Linked DNA regions of Homo sapiens: regions 1, 2 and 3 are each linked to region 4. The links come from fine-mapping of genetic effects on gene expression. A gene starts in region 4. Each other region holds a variant in brackets. All regions are shown on one strand. Distances are between the middles of the regions.

The links. PIP is the estimated chance that this variant, and not a neighbour inherited with it, causes the effect.
Region 1: its variant is the best candidate, but not a certain one, in a credible set for the expression of MAP3K13 in whole blood (INTERVAL, PIP 0.74).
Region 2: its variant is the best candidate, but not a certain one, in a credible set for the expression of MAP3K13 in whole blood (TOPMed, PIP 0.52).
Region 3: its variant is the best candidate, but not a certain one, in a credible set for the expression of MAP3K13 in monocytes (BLUEPRINT, PIP 0.66).

The regions. Positions count from the first base shown.
Region 1 is chr3:185,293,686-185,298,840 of GRCh38, forward strand. It overlaps a transcript of MAP3K13 not described here. Among named protein-coding and RNA genes, the nearest start is that of EHHADH, 42 kb to the left of the region's middle. The variant C/G (reference allele first, on the strand shown) is at 2,282.
Region 2 is chr3:185,386,120-185,391,274 of GRCh38, forward strand. The region is part of intron 1 of MAP3K13 (mitogen-activated protein kinase kinase kinase 13); the gene reads left to right. Among named protein-coding and RNA genes, the nearest start is that of MAP3K13, 26 kb to the left of the region's middle. The variant G/A (reference allele first, on the strand shown) is at 2,539.
Region 3 is chr3:185,170,520-185,175,674 of GRCh38, forward strand. The region is part of intron 1 of EHHADH-AS1 (EHHADH antisense RNA 1); the gene reads left to right. Among named protein-coding and RNA genes, the nearest start is that of EHHADH-AS1, 10 kb to the left of the region's middle. RefSeq lists enhancers at 4,691-5,155, 4,962-5,155. The variant A/G (reference allele first, on the strand shown) is at 2,383.
Region 4 is chr3:185,360,533-185,365,687 of GRCh38, forward strand. MAP3K13 (mitogen-activated protein kinase kinase kinase 13) reads left to right here and starts at 2,604. Exons shown (of 14, transcript NM_004721.5): 1 at 2,604-2,836. RefSeq lists a silencer at 2,436-2,585 and enhancers at 3,056-3,145, 3,236-3,295.

The DNA.
Region 1 (5,155 bases), 67 kb before region 4:
AAGTGCTGGGATTACAGACATGAGCCACTGTGCCCGCCCATCAGTTGCTGTTCTTGGAGTACCATTTTGGCACTAATGCCTTCCTACACATTTGGATTCCTAGGAGACTCAGCATTTTTTTTCACTTTATGCTACTACTCGTGACAAAGAATTTAATATCAATTTGACTTATGGTGTAATTGAAATATTTTTTATTTTGTAGCACAGAGAAAGCCTATATGCCTTATGGATATTTAATATTTTAATATCTATTCTGATAATAGCATTTAAAAGGTTGCTTCAACCTCTACTAGCAGAAGGATTGTGTCAAATATTTTGCTTTTTAATTTTTTTTTACTTGTATCTTTCTGGCCTAATGGCAAACAAAACCCTCCTTTTAGCATTACTTGAGGACTAAGTAGAGAGAGGCTATCGAGAATGTAGTTAGCATGACTGGGAATTTGATGGTCTCTGGAAAAGAAAATGCCATTTCTTTTCTTTCTCTGAGTAACTAGGTTTATCTTTAGTTTAATGATTTAAGATAAATAAGTCACTGACATTAACTTGTTCAACTGTTACTCCTAAAAATAGATATCTCCCTCTTTGATGATAGCATTGGTTAGGTTAGCATAGGTGACTTTATTATAGTGTCCGTGAACAATAGGGCATGGTTGTGCTTTCCAATTCATTGATGAAGAACTAATTTTTTAGTGCTTTAGTGTACTGAAATGCTGTCTTTAGTGCCCTGGAATTACTTATTTAAACTGTGATAGAAGGTTGTACAAGGTATTACTTTTCTCTGCTTATAAATTATATGAATGTACATAGTCCTAGCAATATGAATATTTATCAGAAGATGTATAATGTAGAATCCAACTGCCTCATTCTTCCTGAACAGCCATGGCCAAACTTCTTGCATTAATGGAGACAGAATGAATTGCAAAGGTTGTATAAATCGAGGCTGTTATGTTTATGACAATTGGCAGCTGTGGCATAAAAGGCTCATTACTATATGTAATTGACATTTTGTTGTTCCTTCTTCCTCCACTCCTTTGCCAAAAAATGGCATTGGTATTACTACCTCTCCATGTAGGAAGTAGGATCTACCTATGAGAAAGTTCAAGAGAGTAGTTAAGCAACTTCAGCTATCCCTGACCTTCTTCCACAACCCTCATGAAACTAATCCATTGCAAAATTCTGTCTTTTCTACTTCCTAAATATCTTTCAAATTATTCACCTGTTTCCATGTCCATCCTTATTTATTTTATCATCTTCGCCTACATTTTTGCAATAACTCTTCAATGGTTTTTTGTATTTACTCCTCCCCCCTCTAATCTCATTGCTTTTAGACTGATTTTTAAAAATACAATTCTAATCTTTTTGGTCCTCCAATCTAAACTCTTATTATCTTATTGCCCTTAGAATTCAGCCCCAAATCTTCAATCATTCTTTGTCTACTAAGCTCAAGCCATAATGGTCTTCCAATTCTCTGACAATGCCATTTTTTTTTCTTCAGGGTATTTGTTGTTGTTTTTGTTGTTGTTGTTGTTGTTGTTTTTGAGACGGAGTTTTGCTCTGTCGCCCAGGCTGGAGTGCAGTGGTGCAATCTTGGCTCACTGCAACCTCCGCCTCCCAGGTTCAAGCAGTTCTCTGCCTCTGCCTCCCAAGTAGCTGGGATTATAGGCGCCCGCCACTATGCCTGGCTAATTTTTGTATTTTTAGTAGAGATGGGGTTTCACCATGTGGGCCAGGCTGGTCTTGAACTCCTGACCTCGTGATCCACCCACCTGGGCCTCCCAAAGTGCTGGGATTACAGGCGTAAGCCACAGCGCCCAGCCTTCTTTAGGGCTTTTGCAGAGCAGATACTTTCTGCTTGGAATGCCCTCCTCTCTCCTGTTCCTCTTCACATAACCCACTTCTACTCATACTACCAGTCTCACTTTAAATATTATTTTTTCCAAGAAGCCTTCCTCCATATCTCAGACTAGATTAGACCTCCCTTCTCTATCATTCTGTCATAAATCACCCATTTTTTTCTCACATCTAGCATAGTTGTAATTATTTCTCATATATAATCATTTATTAATAATCTTACAAGACAACCTTCAGGAGGGCAATGACTGGTGCATGTTTTATTACACTGTATGCCCAGTGTTTAGGAAATTTCCTGGCAAATAGTAGGGATTCAGTAAATATTTGTCAACTGATTCTTCCCACAGCCACCACTCTTCACTTAGATATTTCAGTACTGTAAGTTCTGGGTTGTTTAACTTCCTCTGTTCAAAACCCTCCTCTTGACTGA[C/G]TGCAGTGCTCACGACTGCAATTCCAGCACTTTCGGAGGCCAAGGCAGGAGGATTGCTTGAGGCCAGGAGTTCAAGACCAGCAACACAGTGAGACTCCAGTCTCTACAAAATAAAAATAATTTAAAAATGAGCCGGGCATTGTGGCACACACCTGTAGTCCCAGCTACTCAGGAGGCTGAGGTGGAAGGATTGCTGGAGCCCAGGAGGTCCAGGCTGCGGTGAGCCATGATTGTGCCACTGCACTCCAGCCTGGGTAACAGAGCAAGACCCTGTCTCAAACACACAAACCAAAACCCTTCAGTTGCTTCTCATCTCACTCCAAGTATGAGCCCAAGTCCTTATAATGGTCTCCAGGGCCTTACCTGATATGCCTCTGCTCTCTCCTTACCTCTCTACCATCTATTGGACTACCCAGCCCAGATCTCTTAGCTGATCCTTAGAAATGCCAAGCTTCCTTCTGCCTCAGGACCTTTGTACTTGATATTCCCTGTGCCTGGAATACCCTTGCCTTAGATATCTATCTGGTTTAATCTCTCATCTTCTTTAGGCCCTTCAGGTTATGTGACCTCAGTGAGGCCCTCTTTGACCATCTTATTTAAAATTGTAACCTCACTACATGGCATCCCTAGTCTTCTCTGCTTTACTGTTCTCCATTGTACTTATCTCTGATTGGCATTCTCTTCATAGGTATTTTCCCCAGTGTTGAGAACAGTGACTGACACATGGTGGGCCCTTAGAACTTATTTATTAGTTGAGTGAATTTAACCTGTACTCACAGAGATGCATATTTGGGACAATGAGACCTGTAGCCCAAATTATGAGGACTTAATATTTCAAGATGATTTTACAAGATGAATTAATTAAATTTATTTATATCCTGCCTTGTTCTAAAAAATATTTTAAAATGCATATAGTATGTAGGATGGGGACATAAAGAGAATAAGACAAAGCAAATGTAATAGTATTAAAGTGGGTAAAGTTAATGTACAGAAGGTCCTGCACAGTGGCTAAAGTCATGTTATAAATTTGACTTATTAGAGAGTTAGGTTGCTCAGAAATGATTGAACTGGAATCAAGAATTTGTTCTCTGGCACAGGTCACAGATATTTGAGTCTTACATAGAAACCCAGAAAACCTATTTAACTATAAGACATTGTGCAGTTACTCTTCTAAAAAAAAACTTGCTTTCTGTATTAGGAAATTTCCTATTGGCATAAAATGTACACAGTCTGTCCATTACAAAGGCTCTGCTACATTTGAGAGATGGTAGTCACAGCTACTACCTCTGCTTATGTCATGTCCAGGACATTCCCAAGGTTGATTTAAACCTAGTAATTGGATATTTTTGAAAGCTGTGAAAAATACCAACCAGCACATCAATTACCCCAGTTTCTCCTCCTCTAATCATGAGGTAGCATGAGAGTCCAGTGGTTGTGGCTTCCTTCCTTTTGAGGTAGATAATTGGCAACTTAGAAATAGGTTATTGGCTGGGCGCAGTGACTCACACCTGTAATCCCAGCATTTTGGGAGGACAAGGCAGGCAGATCACCTGAGGTCAGGAGTTCGAGACCAGCCTGGCCAACATGGTGAAACCCTGTCTCTACTAATAATACAAAAATCAGCCAGGTGTGGTGGCACATGCCTGTAATCCCAGCTACTCGGGAGACTGAGGTGGGAGAATCTCTTGAACCCAGGAGGCGGAGGTTGCAATGAGCTGAGACCGTGCCACTGCACTCCAGTCTGGGCAACACAGTGAGACTCCGTCTCAAAAAAAAAAAAAAAGAAAAGAAAAGAAAAAGAAACAGGTTCTTATGTAGTCACAACTAAACAGGGTAGGAAGATTGGGAGTTAGATGAATTAGACTTCAAGAAATTTTTCACCAATACAGTAACCAAAATAAGAGCTACTCTCTCTCTCTCTCTCTGTGTGCATACAATTAATAGATATTGTACAGTACATGTCTTTCTGTTCATGGTATGTATAGTTTCCTAATTCTGTCTTTTTTTTTTTTTGTCTTTTAAAACTGAGTCTGAGAATTATTGCCATGTCTGCAGGCCAGAGATAAAGCAGGGAACGTGGCGACGGACTACAGGCCTTTCAGTAAACTCTGCAGTACCTCACTAAACAAAGCTGGTATTTTTGAGGCAAAAGATAAGAATATTTAGCTAAATGGTGTTCCACTTGCAAAATGTGCTAGTTCTTATTTGATTTTTTTCTTCTTTCTTAGAAAGCTTTCTCTTTTCTATCTTTTACTTAGAGATAAATATTACATTTGAAGTCACATCTGTCCCACACCATTTTTTTCAGGGTTGAAAGAGGAAAACTAAATGAACCATAGACTTAGGGAAATAATGGAAATATGTATGTTTTAAAAAAACCATTTATGTTCCACGTATTTCAAGGAAAGGAAATGAGGAGAAACATTAAGAACACCACAGAACCATTAAAATGGACAACTCAAAGGGAAAGTATTTTACCAAAAGCATTATGTATAACATGTTGCTGATTAAATTTGTGTTGTTATATTTAATGTGTAAGTATACATTATCCTAACTAATTTAAAATATGTTTATTGAATTTACTTTACATATTTTATTTATTTGATGGAACTTTATGTTCATTTTTTAAGAAGTCAAGTATCTCCTCATTTTGGCATTTGATGAGTAACGGGAGAAAACCTGAGAAGAGACAGAAGTAATGCAAAGGTCACCGTATCTTCCAGCATAAGTGATGTAGAAACAGAAAGATCTTATTTTCAGTCAAAGTGGTGAAGTGGCAGAAAGAAAATATCCCCCAACTGGTTTGCTGACACTAATTTTGCCATATAGTGAGGACAAAAAAAACATGTCTAGGCGTTTAACTCATTATCTCCT
Region 2 (5,155 bases), 26 kb after region 4:
CAGACAATCTACGGAATGGGAGAAAATTTTTGCAATCTATGCATCCAACAAAGGTCTAATATTCAGCATCTATAAGGAGCTTAAACAAATTTACAAGAAAAAAAACAAACATTCCCATTAAAAAGTGGGCAAAGGACATGAACAGACACTTCTCAAAAGAAGACATACATGTGGCCAACAAACATATCAAAAAAATCTCAACATCACTGATCATTAGAGAAATGCAAATCAAAACCATGATGAAATACCACCTCATACCAATCAGAATGGCTATTAAAAAGTCAAAAAACAACTGATGCTGGCAAGGTAGTGGAGAAAAGGGAATGCTCTGATACTGTTGGTGGGAGTGTAAACTAGTGGAAGATAATGTGGCTATTCCTAAAACACGTAGAGGTAAAAATACCATTTGACCCAGCAATCCTATTACTGGGTATATACCCAAAGGAATATAAATCACTCTACTCTAAAAACACATGCACGCGTATGTTCATTGCAGCACTATTCACAATAGCAAAGACAGGGAGTCAACCTAAATGCCCATCAATGATAGATTGGATAAAGAAAATGTGGTACATATACACCGTGGAACACTATGCAGCCATAAAAAGGAATAAGATCATGTTCTTTGCAGAGACATGGATGGAGCTGGAGGCCATTATCTTTAGCAAACTAATGCAGGAATAGAAAACCAAATACCACATGTTCTCACTTATAAGTGGGAACTAAATGATGAGAACACATGGACACATGGTGGGGAACAACACATACTGAATCCTGTCAGAGGGCAGGGGGTGGGAGAGGGAGGAGGATCAGGAAGAATAAGCTAGTGGATGCTGGGCTTAATGCCTGGGGAATGGGATGATGTGTGCAGCAAACTACCATGGCACACATTTACCTATGTAACAGACCTGCGCATCCTGCACATGTATCTCTGAACTTAAAATAAAAGTTGAAGAAAGAAAGGAAAAATAAATAAATGTGATACATCACATCAACATCAGCAGAATGAAGGACATATGCCATAGTTTGGATATGGTTTATTTGTTCCCACCAAATTTCATTTTGAAATTTGATTTTCAGTGTTGGAGGTGGGGCCTAATGGGAGATGTTTGGGTCATGGGGCAGATCCCTCATGAATATACTAATGCTCTTCCTTTCGGATCAGTGAGTTCTCACTCTATTAGTGCCTGTGAGTGCTGCTTGTTAAAAAGAGCCTGGCACCTCCCCACCTCTCTGTTGCTTCCTCTCTCTCTATGTGATCTCTGCACAAGTTGGCTTCCCTTTGCTTTCCACCGTGAGTGGAAGCAGCCTAATGCCCTCACCAGATGAAGATGCCCAGTCTTGAACTTTTTGAGGCATCAGAATCAGGAGCCAGGGAAACCTTTTTTTAAAAAATAAATTACCCAGCCTCGGGTATTCCTTTTTAAGAACACAAAATGGACTAAGACACCATATGATCACCTCAATAGATGCAGAAAAATTATTGATAAAATTCAACATCCCTTCATGATCAAAAACTTTCAACAAATTAGTCATAGAAGGATCATACCTCAACATAATAAAGACCACATGAGAGAAACTCACAGCTATCATCACACTGAATGGGGAAAGGTGAAAGCCTTTCCTCTAAGAACTAGAACAATATGGTCACTTTCACCAGTCTCATTCAACATAGCATGGGAAGTCCTAGCCTGAGCAATCAAGCAAAAGAAGGAAATAAACAGCATCCAAATTGGAAAAGAGGAAGTCAGATTTTTCCTCTTTGCAGATAACATGCTCTTATATATAGAAAATCCTAAAGACTTCACTAAAAAACTCACAGAACTGATTAACAAATTCAGGGAAGTTGCAGGATACGAAAATCAACATACATGAGACAAGAACTTAGGTGGTTAAAAAAGTTTAAAAATCAGTGCACAAAAATCAGTAGTTTACACAAAATATATACCAACAACAAACTAGCTGAAAAATAATCAAGAAAACAATCCCATTTACAATTGCTACCAAAAAAAAAAAAATCCCAACTAGGAATAAATGTAACCAAGGAGGTAAAAGACTTATACAAGAAAGCTACAAAACACTTATAAAAGAAATTAAAGAGGCCAGGCACCATAACTTATGCCTGTAATCCTAGCATTTTGGGAGGCTGAGGCAGGTGGATCACTTGAGTCCTGGAGTTCCAGACCAACCTGGGAAACGAGGCAAAATTTTGTCTCTACAAAAAATACAAAAAGTAGCCGGATGTGGTGGCATGCACCTGTAGTTCCAGCTACTCGGGAGGATGAGATGGGAGCATTGCTTGAGCCCAGGAGGCCGAGGCTGTAGCGAGCCATGATCACAGCACTGCACTCCAGCCTAGGTGACAGAGTGAGACCCTGGCTCAAAAAAAGAAAAAAGAAGAAGAAAATTGAAGAGAACACAAACAAATGGACAGCTATCACATGCTCATGGATCGGAAGAATTAATATTGTTAAAAATGGCCATATTACCCAAAGCAATCTAGAGAGTCAATGCCATCCCTATCAAAATACCAATGAT[G/A]TTCTTCACAGAAATAGACGAAGCAATCCTAAAATTCATACGGAACCACAAAAGACCCTGAATAGCCAAAGCAATACTGAACAAAAAGAACAAAGCTGGAGGCATCACAAAACCTGACTCCAAAATACACTACAAAGGCATAGTAACCAAAACAACATGGTATTGGTATAAAAACAGACACACAGACCAATGGATAGAATAGAACCAGAAATAAATTCATTTCTCAAATTTTCATAATATTGTTACATTGTTTTTTAAATGTTACACCTTAAAATTTGTGTCATATTCGTTCTTTCAGAGGTACCTCTTTTTTACTTCCCTGAGCAGCAGAGGCAGTACATTCTGGTTAGGGAGTTGACCTTCTTAGAAAAGACCTTTTAGACATCAGTGTATGAGAGTATGTTCTCTGCGTTAAACAAAATAAAAGTTGCTCTAATTGACAATATGAACATCCAAGAGTCATTCAGAATTACAAACCTCTGGTAAAGGTAAACTAGGTACTTAATAGATACTATGAGCACCATGCTTTGTAAATGATTTGTCTTGCCTAATCATAGCCTTCCAAATTTCTGTACACAATCCCATTCTTTCAAAGGGGTTACAAGTTTGGCCTCTAAAGTGAGACAATGCTAGTTGAGTCTTAGTATTTCCATTTATTAGCTGTATGCCTTGGGTAAGTTATTTAAAGTCTCTAAGTTTCTCCTATGTATATAATAGGAATAATTACAGAACCTAACAGGGGTTAAATGAGATAAGGTACATAAAGTCTGAGCATAATGCATCACAAATACTAAGCCCTGAACAAATGATAGTTGCTAATATATATTAGCTTCTTTCTTTTCATTTATTGTCTAACCATGTAAAAAAGACTGCCAGTTGATACCTGGGGGAAATTTTTTTTTAAAAAAAGATAGAAAAGAAAAAGAAAAAAAATACAATAGTATTCCTGTCCACAAGAATTCACAGTCTACTTGGAGAGATTGACACATACGCCGTATTTTAGTCGGGCAGCAATTCTCAAACTTTTTGGTTTCAGGACCGATAAAAAAAAAAAATGAGGACCCCAAACCAAAGGGCTTTTGTTTATGTGAGTTATATCGTCTATATTTACCATATTAGAAACTAAAACAAAAAATTTGTTAAGTATTTATTAATTTATTTTAAAAATAATAAACCTATCATACAGTAACATAAAGAACATTTTCTTTCATGAAAAAAGAACTACAGTTTCCAAACCTTCACAATTTTTTGTGAGGAGAGTGGTATTGTGAAAAGAGGTCTTTGCAAATGTCTTTAATGTCCGACTTAATAGATGATAACTGGATTCTCATATCTGCTTCTGCTTTCAATCTGTTGTGATATCAAATGGTATATAGTGGCCACGGGGGATCTCCACTGTCTACTTGTGAGAGAATGTGATAAACAGGAAAATAATATCTTATTATTATGTAAATAATTCACAGACCCCCTGAAAGATCTCAGAGGTCCCCAGGAGTTCCCAGAGCATACTATAAGCACCATTGCGTAGGGTGTGAGTAATAGCTAATATCTCTATTGGATTTAGTGTGTGCCAGACACTGTTCACAGTGCTTTACATATTTAATTCTCACAGCAGCTCTGTGTGGTGGGTGCTATTGTTATTATCTCTAATTTCCAGTTGAAACCAAAGCACAAAGAGAGTAAATTCATCAAGGTGGAGTCAGCATTCAGTTTCAGACTGTCTGGCTTCAGGGTCCAAACTCTTTTCTGTGCCACTGCGCAGCCTCCCTCCTTGGCAAGTGAGCACAGTTTCATAGAGAAAATAACATTTTTCTTAAAGGCTACGCAAAGATGGAGGTTCTAATAGACAACCCTTAGAGAATAGTTTATTGTTACTCATTACAAAGCAGGATTTTATTCTTGTGAATGTTTTCAACCTTCAGCTTTATCTCCTAAGTTTCTTTGAAATCACTTTACAGTCAGAATTTTTTTTTTTTTTTTTTTTTGAGACAGAGTCTTGCTCTGTCGCCAGGCTGGAGTGCAGTGGCACAATCTCAGCTCACTGTAACCTCTGCCTCCCAGGTTCAAGTGATTCTCCTGCCTCAGCCTCCTGAGTAGCTGGGACTACAGGCGCCCACCACCACGCCCAGCTAATTTTTGTATTTTTGGTAGAGATGGGGTTTACCATGTTGGCCAGGATGGTCTCGATCTTTTGACCTCATGATCGGCCTGCCTCGGCCTCACAAAGTGCTGGGATTACAGGCGTGAGCCACTGCGCTGGGCCGATATTTTCCTTTCTTATACCTGCATCAACAGCACCATCCTACACATCCCGGTCTGTCCAAGGTTCATACCAATAGCTGCCAGTTACTGCAATTTCAATACTGAAGGCAGGATTTTGCCCTTTCTTTTTTTGTTATGATAAAATACCCATAGCATAACATTTACAGTTTTAGCCATTTGAAGTGTCCAGTTCAACGGCATTAAGTACATTGATGTTGTTGTGCAACCATCACCACTGCCATCCATCCACAGAACTCTTTTCATTTTGTAAAACTGATACTCCGTACCCATTAACCAGTAACTCCCCATTCCCCCTCCCCACACACCCTGGCAACCACCATCCTATTTTCTGTCT
Region 3 (5,155 bases), 190 kb before region 4:
AGGAAATCAACTGAAAATTACTGAAAGTAATGAGCTCAGTTGCAGGACTAACCTTAATACCTCTAAAACATTTGTATGTACATACATGTGTGTATGTGCGTGTATCTATTATATATTCTATGTACGTATACTGTTTTATGTATATATGCCAATATGAAACTGATATCTAATAAGGAAATACAAAAAATAAATTTTATTGTTGCTAGTACAACCAAAACAGATTAAACACATGGGGTTGATTTAACTTATAGTAAGGTTTGTTCAGAGAAATTACAGAGGACGTTGTTAATAAATCAAGTTCCATATCTGATTAGAAAAGTGAATAAAATAGTATTTCCTAGGCAACATGTAGATTTACCAATTAAAGCCTCGGCAGGTTAACTTCAAGTGTCTAACAAAATAAGAGGGCAATTCAGCTGGATAATAGCAAGAAGAATGCCAAAGAATACTTATTTTAGAGGATGTAATGATTATTGATTCACACTATTGTATATTTTTGGCTGTACTAAATTTTAATATATGTTACAAAGTCATCATTATAAAAGCAGTGGAGCATTAAATTAAAAATAGAATAAGTTACTGAATCTGAAATAAACAGATTTAACACATTAATTCAAACGCTAAGAGCTTAATATATGACAAAACAGAAGGAGTACAGTATGGAAAAGAATCATGACAAAATGCTATTGGTATAAAGAAGCATTTACATATATATTTATACATATATGTGTATGTGTGTATATATATAGATAGAGAGAGAGAGAGAGAGTGCAATTAAGAACAGTATTTTGGACTCAGATAGTCTTTGGCAAGTTCCTTAAAATTTCTGTCTCCTTTTCCTTAGTGGTAAAATGGGACCCATAATACGTATCTTGAGGGTACTTTTGCAGAATAACTCAGTTATTGTACATAAAGCACTTAGCATAATGCCAGGAACATAGTAAACAGTTATTATCATGAGTCAGAGTGTTAAATATAAACTAGAACCAACTGGTTAAATGCTCTAGAAACACAAACAGGAAAACATGTTCCCAGTGGAAGAAGGGAAACAAATTTCTGATTATGGAAGCATGCAGGGCAGTATCATAGACAAGATGGATGTTCAAAATGTTAAAAAAAGAAGAAGAAAAAACTTATAAACAAAACATATTATTGAGAGTAAACACAAATTGTTGAGCTCCTAAATGAAGTAGTTTTGGAAACAGCAGTGCCAGGCCAGTGGAGATGGGCTAAGTTTCAGGATGGCCTGAAATCTCCCTATTTGTCAAACAGCCCTCCCAGAGCTGTGCCTGAGAAGGAAAGTTCATGGACCTTTCATGTGACCCCAAAGGCAATCAATCCCAGTGAAAGTGGTCCTCCTTCCCATTCTATCATCCTCTTGGGCTAGGTCTGTCGAGAGCCCTGTGGCCCCTCCTTCTCCAGCTTGGGATGCAGAGGCGCTTCATCTGGGCTGGATGGACTTGTGGTTCTCACTGGTCACCCAAGAGCTGTGCCATCACCCTCTGCTCCCAGGGCTGCTCCTCTGGCACATTTCCAGCCAGTCCAGCTGCCCCTTTAGCTTGCCCCATGGTCCAATGTCTCTTTACTCCTTTACATTAGCTGATGAATGTTCATTGCCTCACTGTTTTTTCGTTCTACTAATCTGGAATTTCATGTCATTCCCACAGCCCCAGCCCAGTCAATACACTCAATGCAATATCGTAATTCATATCCCTAAACCCCACTTTTCCTTTCTTCATCTGGATAATTACTTTATCCTGTATGACTCAAGTCACTCCAGGAGGCTTTCCTTGACACATCCTAGCTGAGCTCAGAGTCCCTCTTGTAAGAATCATGGCAGCCGGTACACCTTGATTAGACTGTAAATTCCTTGTGTGCCAGCGACAGTCAGAGCTCTTAGGCATCTTTGTTCCAAGCACAGTGCCTGCCCCACGGGAGTCCTAAGAAAGATTTGTGCCATTTGCTGCTGTCTCTCCCACTGCTGGGCACTAGCTTTGACTCCACTGTCTGTCCTACTGAAACTGCACGTACTAGTTTGGGCAGTGGTTCCCCAACCTGACTGTACATTGACACTTCCTGAGGAGTGCATAAAAATACCAGTTCCCTGGGCCAAGTCAGTCAGAATCTCCGGGGTAGTATTTTTTCAGAACTCCCCAGATTGTTCTTCTGTGCATCCAGAGTTGAGAACCACCAGTTTAGGACATTATTCAGAGCCCAACTAAGAGATTTTAATTCTGAGTCTGACTAGGGCACATGGGAAGCGCACCCCTGCTGACATGGTTGGTTGCTACGCAGAGCCTAGGGGAGTCAGGAAGCATCCCAGCTCCCTCTCAGTGCCCCTCTCTCCACACCCCCACCCCCATGAGGCTGAATACTTAGTGC[A/G]ATCACTTTCACTTCTCCTTGGAGGGTAGCTGTTTAAACCCTTTTTCTGGGAACTGGCTCTGAACCTGCCTCAGCAATTCACATGCACTCCCATCATTGGCTCTAATCAGAGGGGCGGGGCACTTTACCTGTCATTATAGTACCTCGTTTCTCAGATATTCCCTTTAAGTGGAAGCATAGCACAGCAGTAATTCGGCGGATCCAATGAGAACCTGACAGGTATATAATTTTAGGGGCCCTTTTTAAGGAAAAGAGTACAAGATTACAAATCACAAAATTGCCAGGGCCTTCCTGAAGTCTTGGAAAGAGCCCCTGCCAAGAGCTGTAAGCTTTGCTAGCTTCGGAGTAAATCTGCTTCTGAGAATAATGGCTGCCATTTATTGTGTCAATATGTATCCGAGACTTTTTATATATAGCTGTGCTTACAACAAACAAGCAAGGATGTATTATCCTCCTTTTACAAACAAGGAAACTCAGGCAGGGAAAAAATTCGTTGTTTATTTCAGGTCGCATATGTGAGACTAGAATTCAAACTCATTTCTGACTGGCTTGTGAACTCAAAATCTTTCCACCACACTAACAAATTCCAGCATCTACAAAGGTTATGCACGCCGGGGACCCAGAAGAAGCAAGCAAATCCATATATATACTGAGTATTCTACGTAGACTGAAAAATTAATGTGACTTGCATATGTGTGGGCCACTTTTTACATTATGTAGGTGCCGCTGTAATTAATCAAGTCATTTGAAAGCACGTGTTACTCAATAGCTTCAATTATAGTGTCTTTTCTCAATCAACAGATACAAAAGGTACAACCCCCCCTTTTTTTTTTTTGAGACGGAATCTCGCTCTTGTTGCCCCGGGTGGAGTGCAATGGCACGATCTTGGCTCACTGTAACCTCCACTACCCGGGTTCAAGTGATTCTCCTGCCTCAGCCTCCTGAGTAGCTGGGATTACAGGTGCACACCACCATCTGGAGCTAATTCTTGTATTTTTAGTAGAGACGGGGTTTCACCATGTTGGCCAGGCTGCTCTAAAACTCATGACCTCAGGTGATCTGCCTGCCTCGGCCTCCCAAAGTGCTGGGATTTCAGGCGTGAGCCACCACACCCGGCCTAAAGGTACAACTCTTATATGAGCATCTGCAAAACTTGGTTGTGTTAAAAAGGAAGCATGGTGCTGGAAAGTATCGGAAGCTCACTGTATTAATGGTGAAGTGGTACAGCTCATGTTCCCTGAGCCTGTCGTGGTCAGGCTCTTTCCACAGGGCTCCAAATTCTCAAACAGTGGTCTCTAAAATGGGGGATTACAAGACAATCTATTGGAGTCAAGGAAGAAAATATCAGAAATTATATTTATATTTATTTTTAACATTGCCTTTTAAAATGTCCGTATATGTTTGTGTTTCATGAGGTATATACTAATGTTATTACAGTAGCATATGTGTGTGATTTATAAATAAGTACAAATTGCATAGCATAATAATTAGTAGCATAGACTCTAGAGCCAGATTGCCCACGTTAAAATCTTGGGTTTATCACCCAGAGACGGGTTGATAGGTGCAGCAAACCACCATGGCACATGTATACCTATGTAACAAACCTGCATGTTCAGCACATGTATCCCACAACTTACAGTAAAAAAAAAACCAAAAAACAAAAAAACAGCTGGGCACAGTGGTGCATGCCTGTAATCCCAGCACTTTGGGAGGCCGAGGCAGGCAGATCACGAGGTCAAGAGATCGAGACCACCCTGGCCAACACGGTGAAACCCCCATCTCTAAAAATACAAAAATTAGCTGGGCATGGTGGCGCACACCTATAGTCCCAGCTGCTCAGGAGGCTGAGGCAGGAGAATCACTTTAACCCAGGAGGCGGAGGTTGCAGTGAGCCGAGATTGCGCCACTGCACTCCAGCCTGGCAACAGAGCAAGACTCCGTCTCAAAACAAAAACAAAATCAAAAACAAAACAAAAAACAAATAAACAAACAAAAAACTTGGGTTTATCTCTGTGTGTCCTTGGAAAAGTAATCTTTCTGTGCTTCAGTTTCCTCATCTGTAAAACGGTGATAATAATACTGGAATGCCTACTGCATAGGGGTATTGTGAGAATTAAATGAGTTAATACAAGCAGAATATTTAGAATGCTGCTCTGCAATATTAGGGGTGGTGTATGTTTTTTCAATGATAAATACAGTGATCCACAGATGATGAACTTGATGGGTGGACAGAGAGAGTGTGCTGTCCTGTTCTGATTTTAGGAAAACAAAAGAAAAAAGGACAATTATTATTATGCATATACACATATTTTAAGGTATATTAAAGATGCATTTTGTGTCTGTCTCTTTCTCTCGTCTGTCTCTCTTTAACCCAAAAACGGTGTGGTTTTACACATTTGGCAATTATGGCTCCAAATATTCTACTAACTAGAGGCACAAAAACAAACAGCTCTGGGGCATCAGAGCAAGACCACTCCCCAAATTGCCCCTTTCGCTTAAGCCAGCCTCTAGCCTTGGAATCTGGCTAGCACTGCCAGGTTGCCTAAGTCCACAAGCAGTAAAAGAGGGCCCTAGTATGCTGGGGTTATTTATCTTGGTGTTGTCCTCTGGCCCAGCCCTGCCCAGGAACAGGAGACAGACGGCCACACAGAGCCTTGCCTCTGATAACTGGGGGGTGGAGAGGTTGAGAAACAACGCTTCACTCAGCAACTTCCTGCTCCCTCCGAGGAAGAAGAAAGGGGTGTCTGTGCTAGAGCCACTCCCTTGCCAGCAG
Region 4 (5,155 bases):
TGACATGGAGGAGTCTTTGTTGGCCTAGCTGATGTTCCTGTGGTACAGGAAGCATGCTAACTGAGGCCAAGTTTATCATCTTACTGAAGTGGCAAGTCCATAAAGCCCCCAAGTTTTTATTTTCCAGGTTATATATTGAGCCAAGAATCTTAGGTGACTGTTATTAGAAGCATTTATAGACCCTGTTTTGTTGAATTGCTTCAGAGACTACTCCCATCCATAGTGGACTTATTAGTAATTTTGTTGCTGTCAAAACTTACAGAAAAACTTCTACAACAGCTTTAGCTTTTTTTTTTTTTTTTTTTTTTTTTGAGAGAGGGAGTCTCACTCTGTCACCAGGCTGGAGTGCAGTGGTGTGATCTCAGCTCACTGCAACCTCTGCCTCCCAGATTCAAGCGATTCTCATGCCTCAGCTTCCCGAGTAGCTGGGATTACAGATGTGTGCCACCATGCCCAGCTAATTTTTGTATTTTTAGTAGAGATGGGGTTTCACCATGTTGGCCAGGCTTGTCTCAAACTCCTGACCTCAGATTTTATATGTATATGTGTATGTGTATATATATATATGTGTGTGTGTGTGTGTGTGTGTGTATACACACATATATACATATACATATATACAGATTTTATATGTGTGTGTATATATTATATATATATATACACACACACACAAATTGATGTTTCTTGGCTATTTTATTGACATAGTCCACAAAAAGTTTGCCTCTTTCCATTAGTTAGTCTGTATTGTTTTGGAAGAAAAAAATGTTTTCCATAAATCTGATTCTTTTAATGTATCCTGATTGGCTTTGGTTGTTGTTAAATAGAGATGTATATTCTTCAGCTTTCCATTTGTTCGTTTTTTGTTTTTTTTTTTTCTTTTTTCTTTGAGACGGAGTCTTGCTCTGTCACCCAGGCTGGAGTGCAGTGGCAAGATCTCGGCTCACTGCAAGCTCCGCCTCCCGGGTTCACGCCATTCTCCTGCCTCAGCCTCCCGAGTAGCTGGGGCTACAGGCGCCCACCATCACGCCCGGCTAATTTTGTTTTTGTATTTTTAGTAGAGACGGGGTTTCACCATGTTAGCCAGGATGGTCTCGATCCCTGACCTCGTGATCCGCCCACCTTGGCCTCCCAAAGTGTTGGGATTACAGGCATGAGCCACCGTGCCTTGCATGTTCGTTCTTAAATAATGTGGTACACTGAGGCCTACTGGGCGTGTACCAATGCCGTATTTGCCTTGAGCACTCCCATGTTACATGTGTAAACTTCTTTGGTCTATCTTTTTTGTAGTGATATTCCACAATAAGCTCCTTTAGAGAAGTTTGTTAACTATGTTGTTTGCCAACGATATTCTATTGCTTCAATATAGACAGTACACTGAATATCTTTGCTGTGTGTAAAATTATCCTGAAAAGTTTTCCTTTTCCAAATGAGCTAAGAAGTGTGCAATACTTACTAGTGGTCAGGTTTAGACCCTCCAGAACCACTTAGAAACAGGCCACCACTTTCCTTCTCTCACAGTTGTATAAATAATCTGATTGAGAAATAGAGCAGATCTCTGTTCAGAATGTTCTTGGTCACTGGACACCTCATAACTGAGGCTTTATATTAACCACGATCGTTCTAGTTTCAAGGATTGAGGCCATTTCCCAAGTTCAGAAAAATCATGATCAGTATTTGTCAAGTATTAGTCATTGTGAAGTGTAGTGATGGGGAGTAGGGACAATAAATATATTCATCTCCAATTTTGTATAACTGAAAAGTGTAAAAATAAAGAAGAAAGAGATGCCTCTTGAGTGAATTTAATACAGCTGTTTTTGCTGTTAATAATAAAACATCTTACTGAAACCAAAATTTGTTCAAAGTTTCATTAAGTGCCCTTTTGGAGCTGTGTCTTAATCGACTGCCAGAAGTTGAATAAACCAATGAGGAAACACTGTACCCTACTTAAAAGTAGCAGTAAATTTTTCTTCCATATCCACTTTTGATACATCATGAAGGTCAGCAAGATGTTACTGCTGTGCAAAACAGCTACATTCGTGTAATATTATTTTCCATATGTCTGTTTTCTTAGTTACTAGATTATTGTTCCCATGCGTTCTTCCCGACAATTTTGCTTTTACAAGTCCCGACAATTTTGCTTTTACAAGTCGTGGTGAGCAGGGCATACATGTCCACTAGTCTGCTAGTTTTAGAAATGGTTTTCCTGACTTTGATTTGTTTTGATCGCATCAGGCATATTGCTGAACAGTAAGAAAAGGGTTGAAGAAAAGAGTTCTAATGAATAAAAGATGGGATTTCTTCTATATGCATTTTTGTTATCCTTGATTCCACAGAAATTCTATTTTGATTCCTTCATTCAATAACAATAATAATGTTTTTATGACTATCACAGCTTGAAACACACACACACACACACACACACACGCACACACACACACACACACACACACTCAAGCTGCCAGTCTGTCTTAAGGCAGTGGCAGATGCCTGATTGGCGGGCTCTGTTTATTCTGTGACCAGATTCCTTCTAAAAGAAGGAAGGCCATGTCTGCCTGAAGCCTATTGGCTGGGCCTACTCTGGACCCGCCCCTCTTTTTTTTTTCATGACACACACCACAGCGAAGTCTGTGCGGAATCCTAAACCAGCCCAATTTACATCCATTCATGAATCTGTGACGTCAGCAAGCCTTTGGGCTCCTTTGCGGTGGGCTGGAGGATTGTGTGGGTGGAATCCCCCTCCCCTTTATTTTTCCAATTCTGCAAGGCTTTTAAAATTCACCTTACATCTTTTCAAAGCAAGAAAATGGAACAGCATGTGTAGGAATTCTTCGTTGTTGTGAGTATTGCACTCTGTTTTTCCTGTTTCTTCAGTATTTATTTCACAAGGACAGACAGAGAATGTGTGATTTGAGGTGATTAGAAAGCTGATATTATTGAGGGCGACACCGTGAGAGAGACAGAGAGACAGAGGCGGAGAGAAACCCGAAACCCCGTTACAGCTAGGAGCCTCTGAAACTGACAGCTGGTTTTCCTTTGCTTGTCTGCCTGCTAGACGTGGACATTTTTCATTTACGGTTCTGCACGTTACCTCGGATGCCTGCTTGGCTTTCCTTAAAGGGAGATTCATTTCTCTGAGAGATGATGTGGATGGTATTAGCAGAAAAGCCCAGAACACCAGAAAGGTGCTGAGAAAAGCGGGGCCCGCAAGACAGAGCAGGTTCTATCCTGTGGGGCACTTGTCTTCCTTGCGACCGTCCTTTCTGCCGTTCCTCACCCTTCACCTTGCCTTTGTTTCATATTGTGTAACAGTCAGTATCTTGCGATTGCAATTTGGTGAAGATGAATACTTGTTCAACCATTTTTCAAAAGCTCTTATGACGGGAGCCATAGTGGTGTATTTATATATATTCATAGCTCTTCTTTATGTCACTCTCTACACTTTATAGTGTCAAAAACTTAAAAAGCTGCATTCGAGGGAAAGGGGGAATTATCCTTAAACTTGGGTTTTTCAATATCCTCTAATGAAAACTAAGAAGTGGTTACAATGTTCCACAATTATATTGCATAGAAATGCACATGAGTGTTTTCCTAAGATGAACTTATTAGCTGAAAATAGTTTATTCCACTGTGTTGGGGAAACATGGAAAAGTTCTGATATGTTCCATGTATAAAGTTGGTTTGGTAGTTTGCTACTGTAGTTTTAACAAAAAGTTACTATTTGTGATTGAATTTGTTTTCCAAGGGTCTGTTTATTCTGGTGAAAGTTGTGAGAGTAAAGAAGAGGGATGTGACATTGTGACATGTTCTGCCCCTGGGGCAGCTCCTCAACCCGAATAATCTGACAGCATTTCCCAACTGCTTCACTTTGAGCGATTTATATGCCAGTCTGCAGCATGTACCCAGTTGTTCTTTCTCCTGAGAAAGCAAAATGCCTGATATTTCTTATAATCCAGGCTGCCATGTTTACCTTGTAAAATCAATACTTAATTTTTAGATTTTTATATTATCTTTTCTCGTGAAGCAAGACTTCTAAATTATGGCTATAATATCTTTTGAATTGTTGTTCTTAATGAATCTTCCAACTGTAAACTCATCTAATTTCAAACTTATCATACCTGAGGATGTAACATTGTCTTTTGTTTCTCATCTTGATATTACCGTCAATCATTTTGTATTTCTGAGTACATTTGAACTTGCTGGAGTAATAGAGGGAAAACCTCTGCCTGATTCTAAATCAGATCTTTGTCCTATACTCGGACAATTATGGTTTCATATTTTATTATTTTTTATTTTCTGGGTTTAACAAATGAGATAACATTTTAGACATAATATTTGTAAACATCTTGACTTATTTCAGCATTTTCCTTTTTTGTATATCTTCAGAGAGTTTGTTGAAAGTAGCAATTTCCAAGTAATTTTAAATTATTGAAGTCTACTAGCACGAAAGGTCAAATTCTTAGGATATTTAAAAAATGTTGTTTAATAATCAAACTCATCTTAAAAAATGTTCATCAGACTCTGTCTTTGATGCACATTTTGCCAAAAGAGAGCCTTATTTCTGTGAAAGAAATACAGTATGTACTTTGGATTTACTAAAGTAAAACTGTTACTTTAAGGCACAGAGCAGATATAGAATCCCCCTCTCTCCCCACTCCTAGTGACTGTATTCTACATTATATTTATCTTCATGTATAGTGTACTTGTAGGGAAAAAAACAATAACTCTTAATTGTTTAATATCAAACAATAAAATCCTGTGTATCAGTGACTGTCAATAGATGGCTTTCTGTTTAAAAACTGAAGCTACTCCAGAAGTAGGAATTAATTTATTTAGTAAACAAAGTCAGTCAAACCAGAGCCATGTCCTGGGGAACTGTCAAAAGAATGGTTCCTAAGGGCCAGAGGCCACATCCACTGGTAGATGACAGAACAACCATACTTCAGATGGCAAAACCGGTCAGTTTGGTTTGCGTTGTGTGCCTATCCTCTTTCTGTGTGCTTCAGCTGAATTAAGTGCTTGGAGAGCTCAAATAGTTCAAGATAGCCAAGATGACCAATTCTGCCAGGTGGCAGCCTGATCTTGCAATTTTGATTAAAATAAAGAACATTCCCCAAGAACAGTTTGTTGCAAAAAAATAAAAATAAAAAAATCACAC